Linked DNA regions of Homo sapiens. The protein of the gene in region 4 interacts with the protein of the main gene of each other region in a biochemical or structural test. Each region holds a gene or a part of one and is shown on either strand. Other genes may lie near its edges.

Region 1 (7,547 bases), on a different chromosome or scaffold from region 4:
GGACACTGCGGGTGGTTATTTATGTTTGGGTGGCCACTGCACCTCCTGCTTCTGCTGCTGGTGCTCTACAGGAAGCAATACTTCTCCCTTTGTGGGCAGGGCTGGTTGAATGTCTTGGACCTGGCCTGGAGCTGGGGCAAACACAGGCTGCTCCAGCTGCCCCTTCTGCTGCTCCAGGTCCTTCAGCTGCCCCTCCTGCTGCTCCAGATGTTTTAGTTGTCCGTCCTGCTGCTCTGGGTGCTCTAGGTGCTTTTCCTGCTGTTCCAGGTGCTTTGGCTGTCCTACCTGCTGCTCTGGGAGCTCCAGCTGTGCCTCCTGCTTCTCCAGGTGCTTCACCTGGCCCTCTTGCTGCTCTGGGAGCTCCAGTTGCTTCTCCTCCTGCTCCAGGTTCTTTGGCTGCCCCACCTGCTGCTCTGGGACCTCCAACTGCCCCTGCTGCTGCTCCAGATGCTTCAGTTGTCCCTCCTGCTCCTCTAGGTGCTTCAGCTGCCCCACCTGCTGCTCCAGGTGCTCCACCTGCCTCTCCTGCTGCTCCAGCTGCCCCTCCTGCTGCACCAGATGCTTCAGCTGCCCCTCCTGCTGCACCAGGTGCTTCAGCTGCCCCTCCTCCTCCTCCAGGTGCTTTGGCTGCCCCTGCTGCTTCTCTAGCTGCTTCAGCTGCAGCACCTGCTGCTCTGGGAGCCCCAGCTGCCCTTCCTGGTGCTCCAGGTGCTCCAGCTGCCCCTCCTGCTGCTCCAGGTGCTTCAGCTGCCCCTCCTGCTCCTCCAGCTGCTCCAGTTGCCCCTCCTGCTGCTCCAGATGCTTAGGCTGCCCCTCCTGCTGCTCCAGGTGCTTCAGCTGCCCCATCTGCTGCTCTGGGAGCTCTGGCTGCTTCTCCTGCTGATCCAGGTGCTTCAGCTGCCCCTCCTGCTGTTCCAGGTACTTCAGCTGCCCCATCTGCTCCTCTGGGACCTCCAGCTGCCCCTCCTGGTGCTCCAGGTGCTTCAGCTGTCCCTCCTGCTGCTCAGAGAGCTCCAGCTGCCCCTCCTGCTGCTCAGAGAGCTCCAGCTGCCCCTCCTGCTGCTGTGGGAGCTCCAGCTGCCCCTCCTGCTGCTCTGGGAGCTCCAGCTGCCCCTCCTGCTGCTCTGGGAGCTCCAGCTGCCCCTCCTGCTGCTCTGGGAGCTCCAGCTGCCCCTCCTGCTGCTCTGGGAGCTCCAGCTGCCCCTCCTGCTGCTCTGGGAGCTCCAGCTGCCCCTCCTGCTGCTCCGGGTGCTTCAGCTGTCCCTCCTGCTGCTCTAGGTGCTTCAGGTGCCCCTCCTGCTGCTCTGGGAGCTCCAACAGTTGCTCTTTCTTCATTCCCAGTTGCTCATCTCTCTTGACTAGCTCTTGATCCAGTTGCTGGTCTAAGAGCTTCTTCTCTTCTTCCAGCTGTTTGTTTAGCTGCTGATCCCTTTGTGTTTTCTCCTGCTTAAGCTGCTGCTCTGGGTTTTCTGCTTTCTGATATTCCTCATGCTGTTCCCAGTGCTGTTGCTGCAGCTCCTGCTCCTGTGGCTCCTTCTGCTGTTGCTCACATTCTTGCTCAGGCAGTCCCTTTACAGCAGTCATGTGCTTTTCCTCTTGCTTTGATGGGACCTCCACTGGGAGCTCGACAGGCACCTTCTGGCATGGGGGAGGCAGTGGAGTTGGCTGTTTCATTTGCTCCTGATGGGTATTGACTGGAGGAGGAACAGTCTTGAGGAGCTCCTGACTGAGGGCAGGGGAGAGGGTCACTGGCAGTGTGTGTTGCTGGGACATCTTAGAAGCTACTGTCAACCTGAAAGACAGAAGAGGTCTGATGCACAGGCTGAAGGCAAAGGAAATAGATGAAACCTTGGGAATCTGCAGAAGTATCTGGTTTTTTAGCATCCCCTCTTCCCTTGGGCAGGGTACTGTTCTACCACCTCTGGACTATCATTTCCCAAAAGCAGCAGAGAGAGAAGGGTGGAAATGTGGAGGGGCAGAGAAAGGTCCTCCTAGGAGCCTCCTTGTTCCCAGGTGAGAGCCAACAAGGAGATCTGTCTGCAGGGCTGTTCTGCAAGGGTGGGTCAGGTGCCAGCTCACTGTCTGCTCTTGTCTAGTCCTTGTGTCCACCCTCATCGCTTCACTGACCAAGGAGCAGAGATGCGTTCTGGGATTATGTCACAGTGAGGAGTAAGGCCTTAGGGAATGAAATGTCTCTTGGAGAACACCAAGTCCTAGAAAACCAATAGGCCGTGCCAGAGAGGACCTAAGAGGTCATGGTGTGACCTCCAGACTGGAGCCACAGGACATGCTCTAGGCCTGAATCTCCCATTGGAATGCTGTGTGTTTCTGGGCATGTCACTTAGTCTCCTGGGATTTGGTTTTCCCCCCTGTAAAGCCAGCAGGTTGGCCTATTCAACCCCAGGGCTGCTTTCTCTCCTGACCTTCTGAGGTTTAGCTGCAGTCCTTGTGTCTGGGGTGGGGCTGCGGGAGCTGGAAGGTTGCTGAGAGTTGGAGGTTGTTCTTCCAAGTCTTATACTTCTAAGTTGAGTTTTCCTGTCCCAGCTCTGCCTAGGTTTCTCCAAATAGAAAGGTTTCCCCATTCTGCCATCCCTCTGTGCAGCATAGCCAAAAGGTAGAAGCTCTTCCCTGAACCTCTCCCTCCATAAAGAAGGCAAAATGATGGTCTGTCAAAACCCAAGAGGTTTAGGAAAGAAGTTGAATGCTATTCCCCTCCTCCCTTCCATAATTCTCTCTCACACACAAATCCAAAAATATGGTCACAAGAAAAGATGGGACATAGGATGATTACTCTCTGTTCTGCACTTCTGTGCCAAGGCACTTTTCTCTCAGTACTCTGACTCGAGTCCCCCTAGAATGAAAGTCCAGCTGAATCCAGCCCCAGAGTAATGCCCACCCCCACCCAGGCTGCCCACCCCCACCACATCGTATGCTGTTGGAGGTCCCGAGTCCCAACCCTGGTTCTACCATCCGACACTTACCAGACTCACAGTAAGGCTGAGGCAGAGGCTTTGGTGGAGTGCTGAGCTGAGCAGGAGTCAGGGCACTCTTTATATCATTCTGCAGCCTGGCCTCCCTCCAGGTTGAAGGTGATGGACAGGTTTCACCACTCTAGTTGGTCAACTTCCTCTAACCCCTTCCTGACTCACCACAGGCATCTTAAGCAGCAAACCCTTTAGGGCCCCATTTCCCAGGGACACACAGCTCCTGCCTGGCCAGAGGATTCTGGTAGCTCAACTATTCCTGTGATGCTTTTCTGACCTAGGCACAGGGAGCTGAGTGAGGCATCCTACTGTTTTGTGACCTTAGTCAAACTTCTGCTCTGAATCTCAATTTTTCCACTTTCAAAATGAGTTTGTTCTCATTATTAGGCCAAAAGATTCACTTTCAAGGGCATGAAATGGAAAGTTATGTGTCTTTCGGGGATGTCCAGGCTGGGTTATATGTTTGAAGATAGAGTCACTTCCCATGAAGGGGTGGTATTTCTGGGGTGTTCTCTTGGGCCACAAGCCCTTCCTCTCTCAGAATATATTTTTTAACTCCATCCTATGTGGAAATAAACTCTGTCTTTGGTGGAGGGAGTTTGACTTTAGGCCAAGTAGAGTCAAGTAGAAGGCTTCTAGGAGTCCTCTGCTGCTGCCACTTGCTGCCCAGCCTCTATGCCCGAGGCTGCAGTTAGAGAAGTTCTCAGGAATGCCATGCTCATAAGAACTCCAAAGCACGGCCCACTCTAGGCAAGGAAACAAGATTGAATCTACACAATATAAAAATAAGTATTGCTTTTTATAATGACAAACCAAACTACTTTCTTAAGTACTTTTTTAAATGCATGAAGGTATAAAGATCAGAATCAAATCATCCATTTCCTGTTGTAAATCATACTCTAGAAATAGCTTAAGAAATCTTTCAGAGTGGGGATTTGAGCACATCTCTCCCCCGTGCCAACAGTGCACCAGCACACTTGAAATAACATTCAAACTCACTGCCGTGGTTTAAAAGACCCTGGGTACCTGGCTTCTGCCTTCTTCTGGGGCCCCAATTCATGTCAATCTCTCCCTGAGAGGTATATTCTTACCTCACTGAGGGCCTTCGGTTCCTGAGATGAGCCCAGAGCTCTCCACCTGGGGGCTTGGCACCTGCTCTCCTTCTGCCCACCGGCCCCTCCCCAGGTCTCTGGTTCTTTTATGCCTTTCAGCTTCAGTGTCAATGTTGGGGTCTGTCAGAGATCCTTCTCTGTGTACCATATCTAAAGGATTGGTACTTAATTTCACTTATAACAATCTAGAGTAATTTATTTGCATTTGTTCACTTGCTTATTGTCTATCTTTCCCACTGGAAAATAAGCTAAGAGCAGCGTATACCTGGTATGTTTTCCACTATACCCCTAGAACCTATCAAAACTACTGCATATAATATGTGCTCTACAAGTATTCATTGAAGAACAGTGAATTTTACGACCCGAAAATAATGACTATTAAACATTTCAGTGTTGATCAATGTTTATATGTGTGTGTCTGTATGTGTGTGTAAAAACCAAACTGATTTATTTCTTCCCTTTCTTTTTAATGGTTGGCTAATAACTTATTATATGGACATCATTCATTTACACTCTCTTTTTTACAATCTAATCCAAAAAGAAGGAATTATAAAGACAATACTCAGTGGGGCTAATTTTGAGAAGTGTCCTGATTCCCCATAGTTTTCCTGACAGGCACATTTCTCTTAGCCCCAAGTAAATCTATTTAAAGCACTAATTTTGTCATGTTCCTGGATCATGCCTAAAAAGACAGAGGGAGGACTCACAAGGCACCCTTGGTTTCTGCAGTGCTATCCCCTCCTCATGACCTCTCTGTTCCCTGAGCCCACCCAGGGACCTCACATTCTTTTTCCCATAGAACAGGGACTGTGCCATTTTCTGGGGCAGAGGAAGCACAGCCCACTCTGCCCTGAAGAACTAATCAAGCATCCTTACTTTGGCGCTGATGCCCTTGTGCTCTGCTGCTGACTTCATCTGGGGGGAATCTGCCTCTTCCCAGCCCGTGACAGTCAGTCTGGGGCAGCAGACTCAGATCAAGGAAGTCACACCGGTCTTATGGGTTAGCAGGGGCTCAGTATCTGCCAGATCTGCCTCCCGCCCTCTGACTCACGGCATAATAAGAGCCTTAAGGAGAAGATGGTATGTGTGAGCCTTTGACTGCTGGGCAAAGCTAGGGTGTGGGAAAGAGGGCAGTGGATACAGCTGAGGGAGTGTTTGTGTGTGTGTGTATGCAAGGGAGGGGTTGGGGAAACCTCAACATTCTAGGGCTGAGAAGTCCCTTATTCTGCCCACAGGTTGCCCCATTTGGGAGACAGGCATTCACGTATATGGGAGAGGTTCTTTCACTGCCTATGTGAATGACCTCATAAGCTCCAGGTCCACATGACAAGTCTGGGTAACTGTCCAACCCCCACCCAACATAATAAGGATGAGCTCATATCCCATGACACATGGAGAAGCTTTGGCCCCAACTCTGCCCCAGCCTAAGGATGCACTGGCTATTTCAAATTTGGAGGCAGAAGCTGGCTAGTTTGTCTCTCTCCTGAGTGAGGCAACCTATTTGAGCTGTTGCTTAGTGGTAGGGGGCAGAAGAAATTGGTTATGGTGATTCAATGTCCTGTGGGGAGGGATGCTGAGGACAGCTCTTAACAGATTGCCAGAGGGGTCATAGCAGATGGTCCTGGAAGGTGACTTGGGCCAGAAAATCATGCATTCTCATCTTGAATAGCCATGCCTCATCTGCTTCCTGGTATGGCACTGCCCCATGCTCTGAGGCTGCTAGCCTCCTCTCCCTCTCACAAGCCTCCTCCTCTCCCCAGGGCACTGTCTCCTACATCAGCGGCTCTCAGTCCTCAACCTGCCAACCTGCACTAGTTGTCTCCCCACACACTTCTTTTTTTTTTTTTTTTTTTGAGACAGAGTCCACTCTGTCTCTCAGGCTTGAGTGCAGTGGTGCAATCTTGGCTCACTGCAACCTCTGCCTCCCCAATTCAAGCGATTCTCCTGCCTCAGCCTCCTGAGTAGCTGGGACTACAGGCATGTGCCAACATGCCTGGATAATTTTTGTATTTTTAGTAGTGATGGGGTTTCACTATGTTGGCCAGGCTGGTTTCGAAATCCTAACCTCATGGTCTGCCCGCCTCAGCCTCCCAAAGTGCTGAGATTACAGGCGTGAGCCACGGTGCCCGACCTTCCCCACAAACTTTGAATCCTCCTCATCTTTTTCCATTGCTTCCTGGACCTGACCTTGGCTCTTCTCTCACCTTTTGTGCCCGTCTGCTATTCAAGGAAGGGAGATGAGACCAAGAAAGGGCCAAGAGGGCTGACTCATCCTTTTTGGGCTTCTGGGTGGATCTGTCTGTCCTGACCTGCTTTCCTCTCTTACATCTTCTTATAGCTTTCTCTCCTGGGCTTGTTGGATCACTGGATCTCAGTCACCAGTTCTGGCCTTTGTTCTTGGATCTGAGAGCTGTGGAAGGGCAGCCACAGCTCTGCTCTTGGTGGCAGCAAGAGGAGCAGAGGCATAAAGGCTGCCAGTAGTAGAGGAAAGAGACACTCAGTTCCCCCTTCTCCAACTAAAGGAAATTCCCTCCCCTTTGGGCTCATTGTTGGGGAAATCACATTTTGTACAGTTGATTCTCTGTCCAGCAGCAGAATGTCTGAGATGGAGGAGTCCTCAGAGAATGCATGGGAAATGCCTTACACTGCGCCTGGTGCATAGGAGCTTCTCTATTTATCTATCTAATAATAACTAATAATAATAACTTAAATTCACAATATGTAAATTCATAGAAACAGAAAGCAAACTGATGGTTGCCAGGAAGTGAGAGGAGGAGAGAATGGGATGTAGCTGCTAATGGGGATGATGAAAATGTTATAGAACGACATAGAGTTGGTGGTTGCATAATATATGAATGTACTAAACACCACTGAACTGTTCACTTTAAAATGGTAACTTTATGTTATATGAATTGTACCTCAACAAAAAAAGAAGTAATGCCTTTGCCTAATACCAGGTCACAAGGTAAAGTTGTTAATATAATTGATGTATTCATTCAACCAACACTTACTGAGCCTCTACTATGTGCAAGGCACTGGAGATAGGGTTATGAATAGAAAACACACAATCCCTGCCTTCAAGTAGCTTAGAATGCAGGTGCTTCTTAACACACCTATGCCTACTTCTCACCATTGGGGCTCATCTGTCTTCTGACAGGAATTGAAGTCTGGAGAGAACATGAGTTGCCCAAGAGCCTACAGCGAGGCTGTGATAGAGCTGGGCTGGAACCCATGTGTCCTGACCTCCAGTCAGGGGCTCTCCTCCCCATCAGGCTGCTTTGCTAGGTGCTTGAGCATCTGATGGCTGTGACAGGTTCCACTAGGTGACTTCAAAGACACATTCTAGCTCTGTGAGTCAGTCACTTACCTCAACATGGCCAGTTCTGGGTTTTCTGGAGGGAGTGTCAGTTTTCTCTGGCTCTCATTCAGCCAAAATGCCCTTGGGATGACC
Region 2 (3,207 bases), on a different chromosome or scaffold from region 4:
TCAACAAGGGAACTTCTTAGATTATGCAGAGCTTTGGGTGGTGGCACAAAAAGAGAAGGGAAATGGAATATCCAACTCTCTATTACCACTCTTAGTTCTTGAACTCCCCAGGCCAAAGTCTGTATTCTGGCTCCAGTAACTGCTGACCCTATATTACTCATGCCCCTCCTTACTGGCTGTTCCACGTGAAGAATTACTTTTTCATGCAATACTTTCCCTTCTTCTCAATGCCACACCTCTTCCTCCCAACCTGCTTGCTCACTGCCCTTTTCAAGAAAGCCTTCTCAAATGAACAAAACCTGTCACCCGGTCTCTCCATTTCTCCATGACATCCCCACCATCTGGGAAAGTGCTTGCTCTCTCTGTGATTCCAGTCTGGTGAAATGTTGCCTGGTTGGCCTCTGCATTTTTCTCATGTTTGTGTGCATGACTTTCCCATATGCCATGTGGCTCTAGTGTCTTCTTTTACCTCACAAAACACCCATCCAGGTTAGACAGTGCCGTAAACAAGGGCGATCGAGACATGGAGAATTTCAAATGCAGTTTATTGCAGCAAAACAAGGAAATGGGGAGTTTAAGACCTCTCCACAAAAGAAAAACAACTTGCTTACACCTTATGTACAAAACCAAAACAGCACAGAGATAAGATGCTAAGGAGCTGTCCACACCCTGGGTCTAACTGGTCCTACTCTGGCTGGCTTAAGGAGGTGCTTTGAAATGTCATGTGGGTGGTGGTCACTGCTGAACTGTTTCTCAGGGAAAGAACAAAGCAGGGTCATAGCCAGGGGACTGAGATTGCCACTGATCTGAAAACTTCATTGGGAAACAGCAGAAAAGAAAGAGCTGGGGGAATAGGATGAGCTAGTGTAACTAACCATAGCTCTTTTCTCCGGTAAGGCTGGGACAAATCGACCTCGGTCTTGCCAAGCATATTTGTTAGTGATGCTGGGGGAGAACTAGAGCTAATGAAACAGAGGGCATCTCTTTATCTGGTTACTCCGGAATAAGTGGTAGAAACAAACTTCACGCTGGAACTGCCACCAGAGGACTTGACACCCCCAGAGCTGGATCCCCGGCCTCCTATGGAGCCTCCAGAGCTCCCGCCGCCAGAGCCCCGGCCGCCAGAGCTGCCGCCGCCGCCGCCTCCAGAGCCACCTCTGTAGCCCCCACTGCTGCTTCCGGAGCCGTAGCTGCCATGGCCGCCGCCGCCACCTCCAGAGCCATAGCTGCCACCTCCGGAGCCGTAGCTGCTACCTCCGGAGCCATAGCTGCCACGGCCGCCGCCGCCGCCACCTCCAGAACCATAGCTACCACCTCCGGAGCCATAGCTGCTACCTCCAGAGCCGTAGCCACCGCCGCCACCTCCTCGGCTGCCACCTCCACTGATGGTGGTGTGGCTTGTGCTCACAGCTGCAAGAGGAAGCTCAGTTATTTTCAACCTCAACTCCGTTTCCAGCCCAACAAAGCCTGCACATGCCCCTGAGAAATCGACTTGTACTTACACACACTCACGTTCGGGGCACATTCTCCAGACATCCTGTAGGAGAAAATAAGAAAATTCCTCAGGACACTCCAGCTTCCCAAACCGCTTCCCCATTCCCCGCTCCACCACCTTGAAGACTTTCCCCATCTGGGTCTTCTCCAATGCACTTAATCTGAAACTTAATCCAATCCCCTCTGGCCTCCCAGACCTGTCATTTTTTCTCAGCAAGAGTACAAACACGGAGAAATTCCCATATAAACGAGACAAGAGCCTTGCAGCCAATGAAGGCCCCCTCTAAAGATGCCGACTTTAGGCCAGCTGCCATCTGAGGCAGCCCAGATAAAGAATAATTTGCTCCACCTCAAAGCTCTTTCTAGATATGTTACAGCCCTAGAAGAAAAAAATAAACAGCTTGGGACTCCAGCTCCCAAAGTAAAACTAGGTCCTTCCTCCTGCTCCGTGTACTTTTCATTTCCCCATACCCAGCACAAGCTGCAATCAGATGGCTGCATCTTCAACAACAATCAGCTTGCAAGGAAGGAAGACCATGAGAAGAGGTTCGACTCCCAGCGTCCCTTCCTCACCTGCTTTCTTCTCCCTCCAGGAGGGTCCTGTAGGTGGCAATCTCCAGATCCAGGGCCAGCTTTGTGTTCATCAGCTCCTGGTAGTCGCGCAGCAGGCGGGCCAGGTCTTCCTTGGCCTGCTGCAGGGCATCCTCCAGGTCATTCAGCTTGTTCTTGGCATCCTTGAGGGCATTCTCGCCACGCTGCTCTGCATCACTGATGGACTGCTGCAAGTTGGAGATCTGAAAAAGAATATGACACCCTCTCATAATATGCATTCCCCACTAGGCCTCCTCATCCCAATTGGTCTCCCCACTCCAGTGAGGCCAATAATGAGTCCAACAGAACCACTTGGCCTTAAGTCATCTCACACCCACCTCCAGATAACACATCACCATGTTGACTTCCTTAAAAGACCTTAGGGATAACTCAACAGCCTCTCTTGGCCCTGAGTCAAGGCTCCTACAACCCTTACAGACTTGACATTCTTCTAAACACCTACTCTAAAACCTCCTGGCTGCCCTTCCTCTCACTCCCCAACTCTTAAGTCCACTTTGGGTCATAGGCTAGATCACTCACATTGACCATCCCATCTTTCTCTACTAGGCCATTCTCACAGATTTCCCTAAAGAGAACCCAGCATGATGGCTGCATTCTGGAAACTAGCATAGTCACAAAAGGAACCAGGGATAATAATGTAGCCTTGGGATGAATTGCAAGATTCAAAACTAGGAAAGCACTCGCCCTTTACCTGAGGGTTACCCCCATTCCATACAGCTGAGTGGTAGAAGGAGAAAGCACATACCTGCTTCTTGACATTGTCGATTTCAGATCTAAGTCTCTGGATCACACGATTCAGCTCAGAAATTTCTATCTTTGAATTTCTCACACTATCCCCATGTCTGCCAGCAGTGATCTGCAGCTCTTCATACTAAAGATGGTAGATAGCGTTTGTTAAATGTAGGCAGAACTCAGCATGGCACAGGCACACATACATGAGATAACACAGGATAGCAAGACAAGCCATTTCAGGGAAACTGGCTAGGCTTTCAGCCCACTCACCTTGCTCTGGTACAAGGACTCGGCCTCAGCTTTGCTCTTCTGGGCTATATCCTCGTACTGGGCCTTGACCTCAGCAATGATGCTGTCCAGGTCGAGACT
Region 3 (7,027 bases), on a different chromosome or scaffold from region 4:
TTAAAGACTTAAATGTAAAACATAAAACTATAAAACCCTGCAAGGTAACCTAGGAAATATGATTCTGGACGTAGAACTTGGTAAATATTTCATGATGAAGATGCCAAAAGCAATAGCAACAAAAACAAAACTTGACAAATAGGACCTAGTTAAACTAAAAAGCTTCCGCACAGCAAAAGAAACTATCAGCACAGTAAACCAACAACCTACAGAATAGAAGAAAATATTTGTGAGCTATGTGTCCAACAAAGGTCTAATATCCAGAATCTATAAGGAACTTAAACCAGTTAACAAGCAAAAAACAGACAACCCCATTAGAAAGTGGGCAAAGGACATGAACAGAAACTTCTCAAAAGAAAACATACATGTTGCCAACAAACAAATGAAAAAATGCTCAACATCACAGATCATTAGAGAAATGAAAATCCAAACAGTAATTGAGATAGCATCTCACACCAGTCGTTATAACATAACATATGCTGTCAAGGTTGTAGAGAAAAGGGAACATTTATACACTGCTGGTAGGAATGTAAATTAGTTCAGCCAGCATGGAAAGCAGTATGGCAATTTCTCAAAGAACTTAAAACAGAATTACCATTCAACCCAAGATATTCCATTAATGGTTATATACCCAAAGGAATATAAATCATTCTATCATAAAGACACATCCATGTAGTATGTGAATCACAGAACTATTCACAGTATCAAAGACATAGAATCAACCTAATTGCTCATCAATGATAGACTGGATAAAGAAAATGTGGTATGTAAACACCATAGAATACTACGAGTCATAAAAAAGAACAAGATCATGTCCTTTGCAGCAACATGGATGGAGCTGGAGGCCATTATCCTAAGCAAACTTTCACAAGAACAGAAAAGAAAATACCACATTTTCTCACGTATAAATGAAAACTGAACATTGAGTACATATGGACACAAAGAAGGGAACAATGGACACTAGGGCCTACTTGAGGGTAGAGAATGGGAGGAGCGTGAGGATCAAAACACGAATCGAGTACTATGCTGATTACCTGGTGATGAAATACTTCTGCACACGAACCCCCCCATGACATGAAATTTACCTATACAACAAACCTGCACATGTACCCCTGAAACTAAAATAAAAGTTAAAAATAAAACCCCAAAATTAGACACACAGTCTGTTCATGAGGCTTGATGGAAACAGCAGGCAAGTTTATCCACTACTGGTGGGATTACAATATGGTACAACCCCTATCAAGGGAAATATGGCAATATTATCAAAATTTCAAATGCATTTCACCTTTGTATAAGCAAATATACTTCTGGGAATCTGGTTCACAAGAAAGCAAGCTAAGAAAGGCCACATGTGGTATAGTTTGTAATGGCAAAATATTGGAAACAACTTGCGAGGGTAGCAATGTGGGTTTATTGAAAGCTAAGGTAGTCTATAAATGATTCGCTCTGCAGCTTTCTCTCTCTCTCTCTCTCTCCAAGCAATCAAAGAACTAGAACATTACTAATAACCAACAACTTAAATCAACCCGTGTCCTTCTCACCCATCCAGAATGTTTTCTTCTCTCGTTTCCAGAGTTAGCCACTATCTTGTATGTCATTTTTATAGTTTTTTCATTTTTTATGTATCCCTTTTTGAGCTTTGCTTCATATGTAAATATGCCTAGGCAATATATTTCCCAGTTCTCCTTCATTTGAGTTTTATGACAAGTGGGTAATTCTAAATATTGTCACTGTGGACTTGTGTTGTTTATTCAACATTATTTTAATTATGGTCATATTGTGCATGGCTGTAATTCAGTTATTTTCATAATTGTATAATACTTCCTTGCATTAATATGTCATGACATATTTATGCATTAATATGTCATGACATATTTATCCAGTATTTTAGTATTGGTAACATGGACTGTTTCCAGTATGTTATTGTTAAAAACAGTACTTTTATGAACATTATTGTGCATGTTTCTTGGTAAACATGTGGAAATATTTTCCTTAATTAAATCTTTAGGAGTGCAATTGCTGAATTATAGATTGTGTACACATTCAATTTTACTAGCTGATGTCAAACTGTTTTTAAATGTTTCACCAATATAGACTCTCATTAGTAATGCATAAAAGTTTCTTTTCTACTACAAATCAATAAGAAAAGATAAACAACCCATTCAAATCTAAAATAAAAGTTGAAATTAAATAAATAAGTAAATAAAAGGTAAGATACTTGAATTGGCACTTCACAAAAGAGGATAGCCAAATGGATAATAGAAATATTAAAAATGGGCCGGGTGCAGTGGCTCATGTCTGTAATCCTAGCACTTTGGGAGGCCAAGGCAGGTGCATCATCTGAGGTCAGCGGTTCGAGACAAGCCTGACCAACATGGTGAAACTGCAAAATATAAAAATTAGCTGGGCATGGTGGCATGTGCCTGTAATCCCAGCTACTTGGGAGGCTGAGGCAAGAGAATCACTTGAACCTGGGAGGTGGAGGTTGCAGTGAGCTGAGATTGTGCCATTGAACTCCAGCCTGGGTGACAAGAGCGAAATTCCATCTCAAAAAAAAAAAAAAAAAAAAAAGGAGTATTAAAAATGGGTCAGCTTCACCAGTTATTAGGAAAGTGTAAATTCAAATCACAGGAAATCCCACAAGATGTCCACCTGAATGGCTAATGAAAAGGCAAATCATATGAGGCATTGGTGAGATTATGGAGCAAATGGAATGCTCACACATTGCTGATAGCAGTGTGAATTGGTACAATGATGTTGGAAAATTGATTGCAGTATTTATGACAGCTGGATGTATCTATACTCTGTGATCTGTACTCTGTGATCCAGCAATTCCATTCCTAACCATATATCCAAAATAAATGCATACCTATGTTCTGCAAGAGATATGTACAAGAATATTCATAGCAACACTATAATAGCTAAAACCTAGAAATATCCAATGTATATTGACAGTAGAATGAATATATAACATTTTTGGTATTTTTCATAGAATACTGTACAGCAGTGAAAATGATGAACTACAGGTGTAGACTTCAAAATGGATGACTCTCAAAAATATAATGTTGAGCAACATAAGCAGGACATATGAACACTATACCTTAGATTTCATTTACATACAAATTGAAAAAGTATACTAAACTGAATATATATTTCAGAATACAGACAGAAGTGGCATAACTATAAAGGAAAGCAAGGGCTAATTACCATAAAATCTTAGGAAGCAGTTATCTCTGGGGAGGAAGGAGAATGAAGCAACTGAGGAGAGGCATGGAGCATAGATATAGCAAATATTCTCCTCCTTTACCTGGCAGCTCATTTTAATGCTATTCTTTAAAGAATATAGGTATTTTCTGTGAGCTTTTTATTTGTTTGTATGGCTTATTGTACAATGAGCTTTTGTGTAAGGTAGCCAAAGGCTTCCACAGTCTGACATTCGTTTATGTCTCCCTCAGTTTCAGGCTTGGTGGGCATGTGGTCAGAGTCTAAATCGACAAGGGGTGGGGATTTCACCAGCTGAATTAGTGTCCAATAATTAGTTTGTTACCTTCCCTGCCTTAACTCCACCTCAACTCAGTGACTTTCTTAACTCAGATTCTGTCCCTGACAATACCCAACTTCAGGATATTCATTTCTATTACTCAGAACTTTTGGTAACAATGACAGAATAGTAAGTCAGACTAGCTGAAGCAGAGGGCTAATTTATTGCCTCATAACCCAACCATGAGAAGGGTGTGTGAAGAACTGCTCTCAAGGTAAAGGAGGGAAACCTGGCTGTGTCATCTGAATCTTCTCTCACCATCACTTCTCTCCTTGTCTCAGTGTATTAGAGTCGTTTTTCTCAGACAATTGATCTCCACCCCCAGACTTAGATAACCACTTCTGGAATTCCCTGGTTCATATATATCACCTTTTCCAGAAGAAGGAACCCCCGTTTTCCCCTTTCATTACTCATTCAAATAAAATATGTTAATAGACCAGACCAAGTCTCACACACAACACACACACACACACTCACACACACACACACACACACACACCCCTACCTGTGGTCAGGGGTCAGGCTTTCATGATTAGCAGTCCCCATTAGACTCACAAGTTGATGGTTCAAAGAGACAACAATTCTTCACAAGAAACAGGGTGCTGTTCAAAGAAGTGGGGAGGCATGCTGGACACACACACTGTAGATGTCCAATGTATACATGATACATGTTTTCTACTACTTTCTGATTATTTTCTCCCTACCACTGTGATTTCAAGGGCATCATCCCTCTTCAGACCTAGAATTCCACCTTCCAATTACTTTCTTGATGCATCTGAAAGGCCGTCTCTGAAACAGCAAAGTGCAATAATTAGTCATTATGTATTCAAGGCAAATTTGTCTTACAGAGTTTTTTGCAGGACCAGGGAAGAAGGAAGGAAATGCCCAGTTTGATGCTGGGAGTGGTAAAATGATAAAGTAGATCTGGGTGGGGTTTGTAGCACCAGAGCATAATGGAGAAACACCTTGGTTTTGTAATCAAGACTGGATCTACCAGTGACTTGCTGAATAACCTTCGGTGATTCCTTTCTCTTCTTGGGTCTCACTGTATTTCAAAACATGAAGAATTTCATTGTAATGTTACCTAATAAGTGAGCCAGCACTTCTACTCTGTGAGAAAGTAGGAAAACTCTTGGGACAATCAGAGATGATGTGATGTAATGTCCATTAGTTCTTCCTGTGAATAATCCTGAGGGAAAGCCCCCAGGTCCCTCCCAGAATGGGGTGGATATTTCCCAATACAGCTAAGGAATTATCCCTTGTAAATACCACAGACCCGCCCCTGGAGCCAGGCCAAGCTGGACTGCATAAAGATTGGTATGGCCTTAGCTCTTAGCCAAACACCTTCCTGACACCATGAGGGCCAGCAGCTTCTTGATCGTGGTGGTGTTCCTCATCGCTGGGACGCTGGTTCTAGAGGCAGCTGTCACGGGAGGTGAGTGAACAGGTGACCTGCTGGGCTGGGTTGGACTAAGGGGAGACCCTCTGGGACACCCTGGGCCAGGACAGGGAGCACTTCTGAAGCAGTAGGCAGCACTGGAGCCCAGATTTCAGCTTTCTGTTCTTTGCCATCATATTCAGAAAAAATAGGACTTTGGCTGGTGGACTCCACGTGCTTTCCACCTCAGTGACTGAGATATCAGGACTGTTTGTGGAAGTAATGTTGGTATGTGGCCTTGGCCTCAGATGTCAATACCTGTGCAGAATGTGCAATAAAATAATGAACTCCAGGATTTTAAACCTTGGGTGTGGACACAGTCCCCCGTTTCTCTGCCCCATAAAAGCACTGGAGTAATCAGTACTCTAAAAGGAGGTTAAGAAACAACAAGCCTTCAGGAATCATGTTGTTTGAGGACCCCCATTTTATAAGGAGGGAACCAAAAATGTAGAAATGAGTGAGCAATTGCCAAGGTAATTCCCAGAGCCAGGATGGGGCTCAAGTCTCCTAGTATGTGGCTCAGGGTTCTTTCCTACTCCAATGCACTTCCTAACAAATGACAATGTGTCCTCTTCACTGCTGGGTGTCACCCCAGTCTGACCACTGCTCCTGAGAGACTTGGAGTGGAGGAAGGGGGAAGAAACAAATACTCAAGGGAACTCTGGTCCAGTAGACCACCCCAAAAAAGGAAGAGCCTTCCAAGAGTGTAGCTCCCAGAGGTGTACCTTCCCTACTCAGGCCATGGTTTGAGGATGCTGCAGTAAGCAGTGGATGGACCCAGACCCAGAGGAAAGACATGGCAGCTGAAGCAGAGGCTTACTGGGTATAAATGTGGGCTCGTTTCTTCTTTTAACAGTTCCTGTTAAAGGTCAAGACACTGTCAAAGGCCGTGTTCCATTCAATGGACAAGATCCCGTTAAAGGACAAGTTTCAGTTAAAGGTCAAGATAAAGTCAAAGCGCAAGAGCCAGTCAAAGGTCCAGTCTCCACTAAGCCTGGCTCCTGCCCCATTATCTTGATCCGGTGCGCCATGTTGAATCCCCCTAACCGCTGCTTGAAAGATACTGACTGCCCAGGAATCAAGAAGTGCTGTGAAGGCTCTTGCGGGATGGCCTGTTTCGTTCCCCAGTGAGGTGAGCACTAGCTGGAGAACGAGGAGACCCCTGAAGACACAAAAGAAGGCTGAGCGGTGGGGAAGCATCCCAGGTTGGTGGGAGGGAGGTTGTGGGAGGTGACAGAAAGACTGGGAGACTGAGGGGTCTGAGAGGCTATAACCAGAGTGCCTAGAAGGATGATCTGTCTTCCTCACTGCCTCTGAGTGCTTTGATGTGCTGACTCTCACCTCTGATACTCTTCTCTTCCACAGAGGGAGCCGGTCCTTGCTGCACCTGTGCCGTCCCCAGAGCTACAGGCCCCATCTGGTCCTAAGTCCCTGCTGCCCTTCCCCTTCCCACACTGTCCATTCTTCCTCCCATTCAGGATGCCCACGGCTGGAGCTGCCTCTCTCATCCACTTTCCAATAAAGAGTTCCTTCTGCTCCACTTGTTTCTGGTTCCTATGACTTCTGGGCTCCTGGATGCTTTGGGGAAATGGATGTAGAATTGGGACTTCTTCTCTCCAGTGAAGAGGGGAAACGGTCCCATGGTGAAAGAGAGCAGGGCGGGGGGAGGAAACAGGAGGCACATTGCTAGGGCTTCATATTACAAATCCAATAATCAGCCCCAGTGCTGCCAGCTCCTTTTCACCAGGAAATGGAAATATGGAAATCTTGCCTTTGGCCAAGGACCAGGAAAAACACAAAACACAAAAAATAAATAAACATTACATAAACCATAAGCAGGTCTTTTTTTTCCAATCCACCATCAGTCCTGACCTGGCTACTGTCGGCCTTACCAGTGTGACCAGCCAACCCTTATGGCTGCAACTACAGCTCCCCACTTCCTTCTCATTAATGTTTCCCAGGAATCTATATCTTTTCAACACCACATAGAAAGGATGATGTTACAGATGCTGCGAAACTCCTGCTCTTTAGAATTTCACTGGTTTATG
Region 4 (7,801 bases):
TGCTGGGATTACAGGCTTGAGCCACCATGCCCAGTTTAATTAAGTGACTCTTAATCTCTTTGAATCTTGGTTTCATCATCTGCAAGATAGACACAATATCTTCCCTGCCTGCTCCAGGGGTTATGAAGATGAAATCAGAGCTCGAATGGAGGTCAAGCTTTTAAAAACTGCAAAACCCCTTTCTGGGGTGAGGTAGCTGTTCTTAATACTTATCTCTCATTCTACCTCTCTGATGACATTGGAGCCAAAGGGAAGCAGCTTCCTCCCTGCCACACACACACTTTCAAATTAATTTTATAATTTAAGATGGGGCTCACAGATAGGTGTTATTAGCAATGCAAGGCCTTCTGGTAGCTTCTTATTTTAAAAATTAATAATTCTTGCTAATCGAGTGATAGATTTTTTTAAAAATCATTAAAATTTTCTGTACTGTCTCTATTTCAAATTTATTTTTCCCTATGTTCCTACAGCTCTGTTCCTTAGAGAGTCTCAGGGGGATTTTTTTAGGGTCAGGGATGCTTTCAGCCACAAATTTGAAGTAAACAATTGTGATACCTCACCTATGCACATTTCTTTTTCATTTTCAAGTCATTTTTATGCACATTATCTCACTTAGTCCTTACAGCTCTGACATAGGTAGGGCAAGAGGTGTTACCTTCATTTTTCAAATGAAATAGACAAATTTTATTTTGGCACCCTGACTTTTTTTTTTTTTTTTTTTTTTTTGAGACGGAGTCTCACTCTGTTGCCCAGGCTGGAGTGCAGTGGTGCAATCTCGGCTCACTGCAAACTCCACCTCCCGGGTTCACGCCATTCTCCTGCCTCAGCCTCCCGAGTAGCTGGGACTACAGGCGCCCGCCACCACGCCAAGCTGATTTTTGTATTTTTTAGTAGAGACGGGGTTTCACTGTGTTAGCCAGGATGGTCTTGATCTCCTGACCTCGTGATCCACCCGCCTCGGCCTCCCAAAGTGCTGGGATTACAGGTGTGAGCCACTGCGCCTGGCCCTTTTTTTTTTTGAGACAGAGTCTTGCTCTGTTGCCCAGACTGGGGTGCAGGCACTATCTTGGCTCACTGCACCTTCTGCATCCTGGGCTCAAGTAATTCTCCTGCCTCAGCCTCCTGAGTAGTTGGGATTACAGGCACCCACCACCATGCTCGGCTAATTTTTGTATTTTTAGTAGAGATGGGGTTTCACCATGTTGGCCAGGCTGGTCTCGAACTGCTGACCTTGTGATCCACCTGCCTCAGCCTCCCAAAGTGCTGGGATTACAGGCATGAGCCACTGAGCCCAGCCTGCACCCTGACTTTTAAAGCCCCATCTCCCACTGGCCTTGTAGGATGCCATATATCTCTGGTCCTGCCAGCAAGCAAGGCCATGGGTGGCAGCAGCAGCAGCACTTGGGAGTCTGGTAGAAATGCAGAATCTCAGACCTACCCCAGGTCCCCTGAATCAGAATCTAAGGTTTATCAAGACGTGCAGGTGATTCATGTGCACATTCAAGTTTGAGAACATTGATCTGATCTGGGGATTCACATGAAGACATTACTGACTTAATATCATCTCCCAGGAAAAAAGCTCCAAGATATTTATTTAAAAAAAGAACTCTTGAAAGAGAAATAATTAGTCCCCAAGAATGAGTGATGGGATTCTAGGCATCTGGCCCCTTAGAGAGCTTTCTAGTTCCCAGAATATACAGGATCCCAACTCTTATAATCACACAAAAAGCTGATCTTGTTTTCCAAGCTGTCATAGAATGATGTTTCAGAGAGAAAAAATAAGAAGGAATAATATAAGAAAATAAGGCAACAAACTAAAAACCTAAAGTAGTAATTTGTACATGTTTTCCTTTCATAAAATATGCAAATAAATGTTTACTACATAGCTAGATGATAGCTAATCACACAAAGAAAAATATATCAGGGATGGGTGTGGTGGCTCACGCCTGTAATCCCAATACTTTGGGAAGCCTAGGTGAGTGGATGGCTTGAGCCCAGGAATTCAAGACCAGTCTAGCAACAGAATGAAATGCCATCTCTAAAAACAAAACAAAACAAAACCCCCCAAATCAGCCAGGCGTGGTGGCATATGTCTGTAATCCCAGCTACTCAGGAGGCTGAGTGGGGAGGATCGCTTGAACTCAAAAAGTTGAGGCTACAGTGAGCCGTGATCAGACCATTGCACTCCAGCCTGGGTGACAGAGTGAGACCCCATCTCTTAAAAATGAAACAAAACAAAACAAAAAAGAAGAAGTGAAAAACACATCAATCTGCTAACAACATTGAGTTCTATTTTTCCATATATAATTTGGTGCCCTATGACATTTCGGAGTCACTATAGACTGTCACCTCTGTTCTATTAGTTGAATTACCTTTTAACTATGAAAAGACTAAAACACTATCTATTTGGGCAAAAGTGTATGAAGTTTGTAAGTAGATTGCCTTTACAATATTATTCTTCATTCAATCTATTTAAAAAAATTTTCCCTGCAGTGCATTCCAAGACTACTTCATCAAATTGTTAATAACCTTAGACTTCAATTACACGTTGGCTTCACTTGGTGAGATTAGAAAAGTTTCATCAGAAACTGAATTAGTAATTCTAGAATCATATCTTGTAAGAGCTTTAGAGAAGATACAATACAAATTCTTTTACCCATGGAGAAAATGAAGCTCAGAGAAGAAATGTGATTTGCTCAAGGTCACACTCACAGTTTGGGGATTATTTGAGGCTTCATCTGAAAAACTCTTATTTCATCTTAGTTGTAAAGAAACCTGAACAAAGCCACAAACATCCTAAACTTCTGGTTTTCATGTTCAACCACAGCCTTTCCACAGGGACAACTTATGAATCAAGATTTTGGCTCAGACTTTTTCCTGAATGGCATCAACTCACCTTATCAACAATCTCCTGGATTTCTGGAGTGGCGGGTTTGGCCTCAGATAAGCCTCCAGGTATCATTTTGGCTGATTGCTTCTTTGCTGGACAGGATGCTGGAACCAAAGTGAACAGGGAAGTGTGGAGACTCGTGTTTTAAAAGAGGCGTTCACTAGCTCCGCCTATAGAATGCTTTATTTTCCACAAACAGCAAAGAGGCATGGGGAAAATGAGTATGCCGCCAGGCAAGTCTTCTTGCTTCCTGGAGAGAATATGCTACATGGAATTTGGAAGAAAGAGGGGTTGGAGGATGAACAAATGGGCAAGTACAGGAGTCATGTCCTAACAAGCATCAAACGTCCCTGCATTCTCTTTGACAATGGTTCCATCCTGTTGCATCATCTGAATTATGAAATCTGAAGCCGCAACTAGAATTTCCAAATGTTTTAAAACTTCTAACACAAAATTTTATTTTTTTTAAAGCAAAACTTACTAATAATGTCAAGGTTAGTTTAGAATTTACTTGACTTTAGAAAGAAAGCAAAAGGATCTATCTGGAGGACCTTGGCTGGATGTGTCTTCTTTACTCTTATTTAAATATCTGGAAATGTTTAACATACGGTAAAACACAAAGAATAAAATAACAAACATCTATATTTCTATCACTCAGAATTAAAACTTTTAACCCTTTTGTCATATTTGCTTGCTGTTTTTTATTTTTGTAGTTATTTTTAGGAAATAAAATATTACAGATATGGAGGAAGCCCCACACCCCACGCAACCTTGCCTTCCAGAAGGCAAAGTACATGGTGAATTAATATCCTTCCAGGCCATTTTTATATGTGTGTCTTTAAAATTAAAATATGTCTTACTTGGTGTGTCTTTAAAATTTCACTTAAATTGTATGCTAAATATATTCTATGTTATGTTCCTTTTTCTATTCAACATGTTTTTGAGCCTTTCTATGTTGATATACACATAGATCAATCCACAGATAGATCAATCCTGTTCATTTCCTTTAACTGTGATATGCTATTTTATGCTAGACCTATCTATTTAGTCTACCTATCTAATTGCTATATTCTAGTTCATATTTTACATACTCATTTCTCTATTGATGACGATTTTCGTTGTTTCTGGTGTTTCATTCTTACAAACAACGTTGCATTTTTTCTCCTTTTTACATGAGTGAGGGCTTCTGCAGACAACTTATCTAGAAGCAAAATGGCCACATTGTGTGAATATTTATGTATATTATTTTATTCAATTTTGGGAATATATAATACATACACAGGATAAAAATGTTTGGAAGGAACCAGGCTTTACAATATAAGGAATTATTCACTCACTTAATTCCTCAGACACCCTTCTACTCTCCAGAGACAATTATTGGCACCAACTTCTTCTGTATCCTTCAGAGACATTCTTTACACATACAAATATAAAAATAATTGGAGGCTGGGCACGGTGACTCACGCCTGTGATCCCAGCACTTTGGGAAGCCGAGGTGGGTGGATCACAAGGTCAAGAGATTGAGACCATCCTGGCCAACATGGTGAAACCCCATCTCTACTAAAAATACAAAAATTAGCTGGGCGTGGTTGCGTGCGCCTGTAGTCCCAGCTGCTCAGGAGGCTGAGGCAGGACAATCGCTTGAACCTGGGAGGCAGAGGTTGCAGTGAGCCAAGATCGCGCCACTGCACTCCAGCCTGGTGACAGAGCAATACTGTGTCTCAAAAAAAAAAAAAAAAAAAAAATTGGCTACACACACACGCACACACACACATAGATACATATTCATCTATATAGGTTTTCTTTTATAAAAATGGTATCCTACATAAATTATTATACTTTTTGTTTTATTCCTAACAATATATTTTGGAGACTGTTCTATATCACAATACAGGGAGGTGCTTGTTTCTTTATAATGATGTTTGGTGGGTGCTTGGCAAACTCTTGGAGCTAAGTGAGTGTCTTACAGGCTAAACTAAGGGGTGCTACACAAGTATCTCTCCATAGAATGCCTTTACCCTGTGGATTAAGAAGAACAGCGAATGTGGATGACAAGGTGCTCCCTCAAGAGGCCACAGGTCATCTGAAGACTTTGGCTCAGCTTTCATAGGCCACTGGTTCTACTCATCTTCATGTGACCTCCCCAAGTCAAGTCCTTTCATATTAAGGCCCCTGACGTTTTTCCAAGCCTGAAGCCCATTTTTAGTTGTCTGCTGACATCCTAGTCCAGGCCATCCTTATTGAATCTCCCCAGTGGTAAGAGATATGGTAAACCACAAGTCTACCCTTCTCTTTCTAGGGTCTATGCCCTGTACTTTCAGCTTTTTCCTATTGATTCTCAATAATTTATTTTAGAAGTAAAAACTTCCCCAAAGCAAATATTGCTTTTGTGTTTTGTATTCCTCCTATAACAATCCTAGTTCTTCTCAAGAGTAGTATGTGTGCCTCTGATTGACAGGGAAAGAGTCGCACACAAGGAAGTGCAAAAGAGAAAAGCACAATTCATATCTCTGTATTAATTGTTTACTTAAGTTAAACAAACAGTTGATTAAATACACATTTATTTTAAAGGTACCTTTAAGATTGCTTTTTGGATTTTTTGGTATGAATTATGCAGACTGTGTTTCTGGAGCTAGATATCCTCATATATTTCATATTTCTTGTCTGTGAGCTCATCTGCCACAGGAGTTATCTTTTATGTGAGTTTTCTCTTTTGTGGCTGGTTTGTGGGGCTTTCCTATGGGGTGGTTTCCGCTACCAGGTCCTAGGAGGTACACAAGCCCCAGCCCAGTTCTTACTTTACTGTTGGCTTAGAGCTCTTGCACCATAAAGATACTGAGAATTTGGGCTTGTCTCCAGCTTTAGTTACAGGCCTGGGCTCTGAACTTCCCCAGCTAATTGCGCTTCTACCCATTGCCAGGAGTAGATGTGTGGATGCATACACTTACCATGCAACCCACCGTTCCTACTGCTAGCTATTTCCCCAGGAGAAATGAAATATGTCTGCACAAAGACTGGCATATGAATGCTAACAGCTGCATTATTCATAATGATTCAAAACCGAAGAAAACTCCTTGTCCATCAACTGGTGAATGGTAAGAATAGTTGTGGTAGAGTCACAGTATAGAATACTACTTAACAATAAAAAGGAACAAAATAGTAATACATTAAATCACATAGGTAAACCTCAAAAACAAGACAATGTAAGAAGAAGTGAAAGAAAGCAAACACAGGAGGCCATGGACTATATTATTCCATTTAGATGAGACCTTAGAAGAGGCAAAATTATAGTGACAAAAAGGAGATCAGAGGTTGCTTGAGGCTGAGGTGAGGGATGGAATGCACTGTAAAGGGGCGCAAGAAAACGTCTTAGGGAGATGGAATTGTTCTATACATGGATTGCGATAGTGGCTACACAACAGTATATGATTACCAAACTTCATCAGATTGTGCACTTAAAGTGGGTGGTCTTGTTTCCACACCAAAAAAATAAAAAAATAAAAAAGTGGGTGGACTTTATCATATGTAAGTTACACCCCCAAAAAGCTAGAATATAAAAGCACTGCCTTTTGAATGCCTTCTTTGTGTGTCTCTTGGTCTCGCTGTTATACTTCTTCCTCTAATGTTTTTCATTAGAGTCTTAACTCCTACTGCACCAATACAGTGCTTTAAAAATGACTGTGAAGGCCCTATTTGAAGTGTGTGTTCAAGGGAGGACATAGTTATTCCTCCTGGCTATCCTTGTGGTGAAGAGGGAAAGTGGGGGGCAGGGTTGACTGAGGACAGGTCATGAAAAACAGGTGAACGATCTTACACTTTAGTTGTTAGGTAATGGAGGTCACTGAAAAGTCAGAGCTATAGAGAAGCCATTTGTGCTTTAGGAAGATAAAACTGGAGGCAATGTGTAGACTGGTATATTAGGAAAACACGAACTAACTCCCTCTCTTCTACTAAACCCTCAACACTCAACATGCTCTGGCCATCATAGTGCATGGAAGCTGAATCCCTGTACCCGCATTGTTGTCTGGCTTCCTGGCTTGAGAAAAGCAGAGTTTCTGTTCCATGTTGAGGAGGGGAGAGACAGTGCAGCCAGCGGGATGGCAGGAGAGCAGCCCATACTCCATGGCGAGACCCCTGCTGCGACGCCAAGCCTGCAAAAAACTAACTGGACTTGCTAAAAGCTTAGCATGAGGGTATTTATTTTTTTCAGGGTCAAGGAAGAGCACACTAAGTTCATGCCTGAATCACTGTGGAGCAAAACAGAGTGATCAGAAGAGAATCAAGAGAGCCAGACCTTAGAGATCAGCCAAACTCTTGGGGAGGCCTAGGGTTTCCCTTCTCTAAACTGGAGGACGAGGTAATTCTACCCACATATTTGTGGCTGGGGACTTCCTAGTTCTTATTTGGGTTACACGTATTTTAGGAGTCCAGGTGGAATTTCTTTTCCTTTTTGAAAACTGAGGCATAATTTATGCATAGTAAAATGCACGAATTTTAAGTGCACAGCTACATAATATGTTCCCACATTTTTTACAATTGTTATATATAGAACATTCCATCACCCCAGAAAGTTCTCTCCCATCACTACAATGTGCTCAACCACTAGTTTTGCCTGTTTTTAAATTTCATATAAGTGGAAGTATGATGTAGGTGCTCTTTGTTTCATCTGCTTAGCATAATGTTTTTGATATTCATCCATGTTATCAGATTTATTAGTAGTTTGTTCTTTTTTATTGCTGTGTAGTATTCCAGTGTAATAACATGCTATGTTTGTTTCTTCAGTCTCCTGCTGATAGCATTTGGATTGATACTAGTTTTTGGCTATTAATAAATCTGCTATCAACAAGTCATTAGTCTATATATCTAGGAGTGGAAATTTTGGGACAAGGGCAAAGTGTATGTTGAACTTTA

The links.
Region 1: the proteins of CSTA (region 4) and IVL form a complex in vitro, tested with the Homo sapiens proteins (one study listed by BioGRID).
Region 2: the proteins of CSTA (region 4) and KRT1 form a complex in vitro, tested with the Homo sapiens proteins (one study listed by BioGRID).
Region 3: the proteins of CSTA (region 4) and PI3 form a complex in vitro, tested with the Homo sapiens proteins (one study listed by BioGRID).

What each region holds. Positions count from the first base shown.
Region 1 is NC_000001.11:152,904,024-152,911,570, reverse strand, and holds the start of IVL (involucrin), read right to left. Parts: upstream 3,026-7,547; 5' UTR 2,982-3,025; intron 1,793-2,981; 5' UTR 1,774-1,792; coding exon 16-1,773; 3' UTR 1-15. UniProt on the Homo sapiens protein: Part of the insoluble cornified cell envelope (CE) of stratified squamous epithelia.
Region 2 is NC_000012.12:52,674,208-52,677,414, forward strand, and holds the end of KRT1 (keratin, type II cytoskeletal 1), read right to left. Parts: coding exon 3,109-3,207; intron 2,978-3,108; coding exon 2,852-2,977; intron 2,289-2,851; coding exon 2,068-2,288; intron 1,538-2,067; coding exon 1,503-1,537; intron 1,411-1,502; coding exon 986-1,410; 3' UTR 529-985; downstream 1-528. UniProt on the Homo sapiens protein: May regulate the activity of kinases such as PKC and SRC via binding to integrin beta-1 (ITB1) and the receptor of activated protein C kinase 1 (RACK1). In complex with C1QBP is a high affinity receptor for kininogen-1/HMWK.
Region 3 is NC_000020.11:45,170,026-45,177,052, forward strand, and holds PI3 (elafin preproprotein), read left to right. Parts: upstream 1-4,876; 5' UTR 4,877-4,897; coding exon 4,898-4,976; intron 4,977-5,835; coding exon 5,836-6,110; 3' UTR 6,111-6,111; intron 6,112-6,344; 3' UTR 6,345-6,519; downstream 6,520-7,027. UniProt on the Homo sapiens protein: Neutrophil and pancreatic elastase-specific inhibitor of skin. It may prevent elastase-mediated tissue proteolysis.
Region 4 is NC_000003.12:122,320,454-122,328,254, reverse strand, and holds the start of CSTA (cystatin-A), read right to left. Parts: upstream 3,008-7,801; 5' UTR 2,963-3,007; coding exon 2,897-2,962; intron 1-2,896. UniProt on the Homo sapiens protein: This is an intracellular thiol proteinase inhibitor. Has an important role in desmosome-mediated cell-cell adhesion in the lower levels of the epidermis.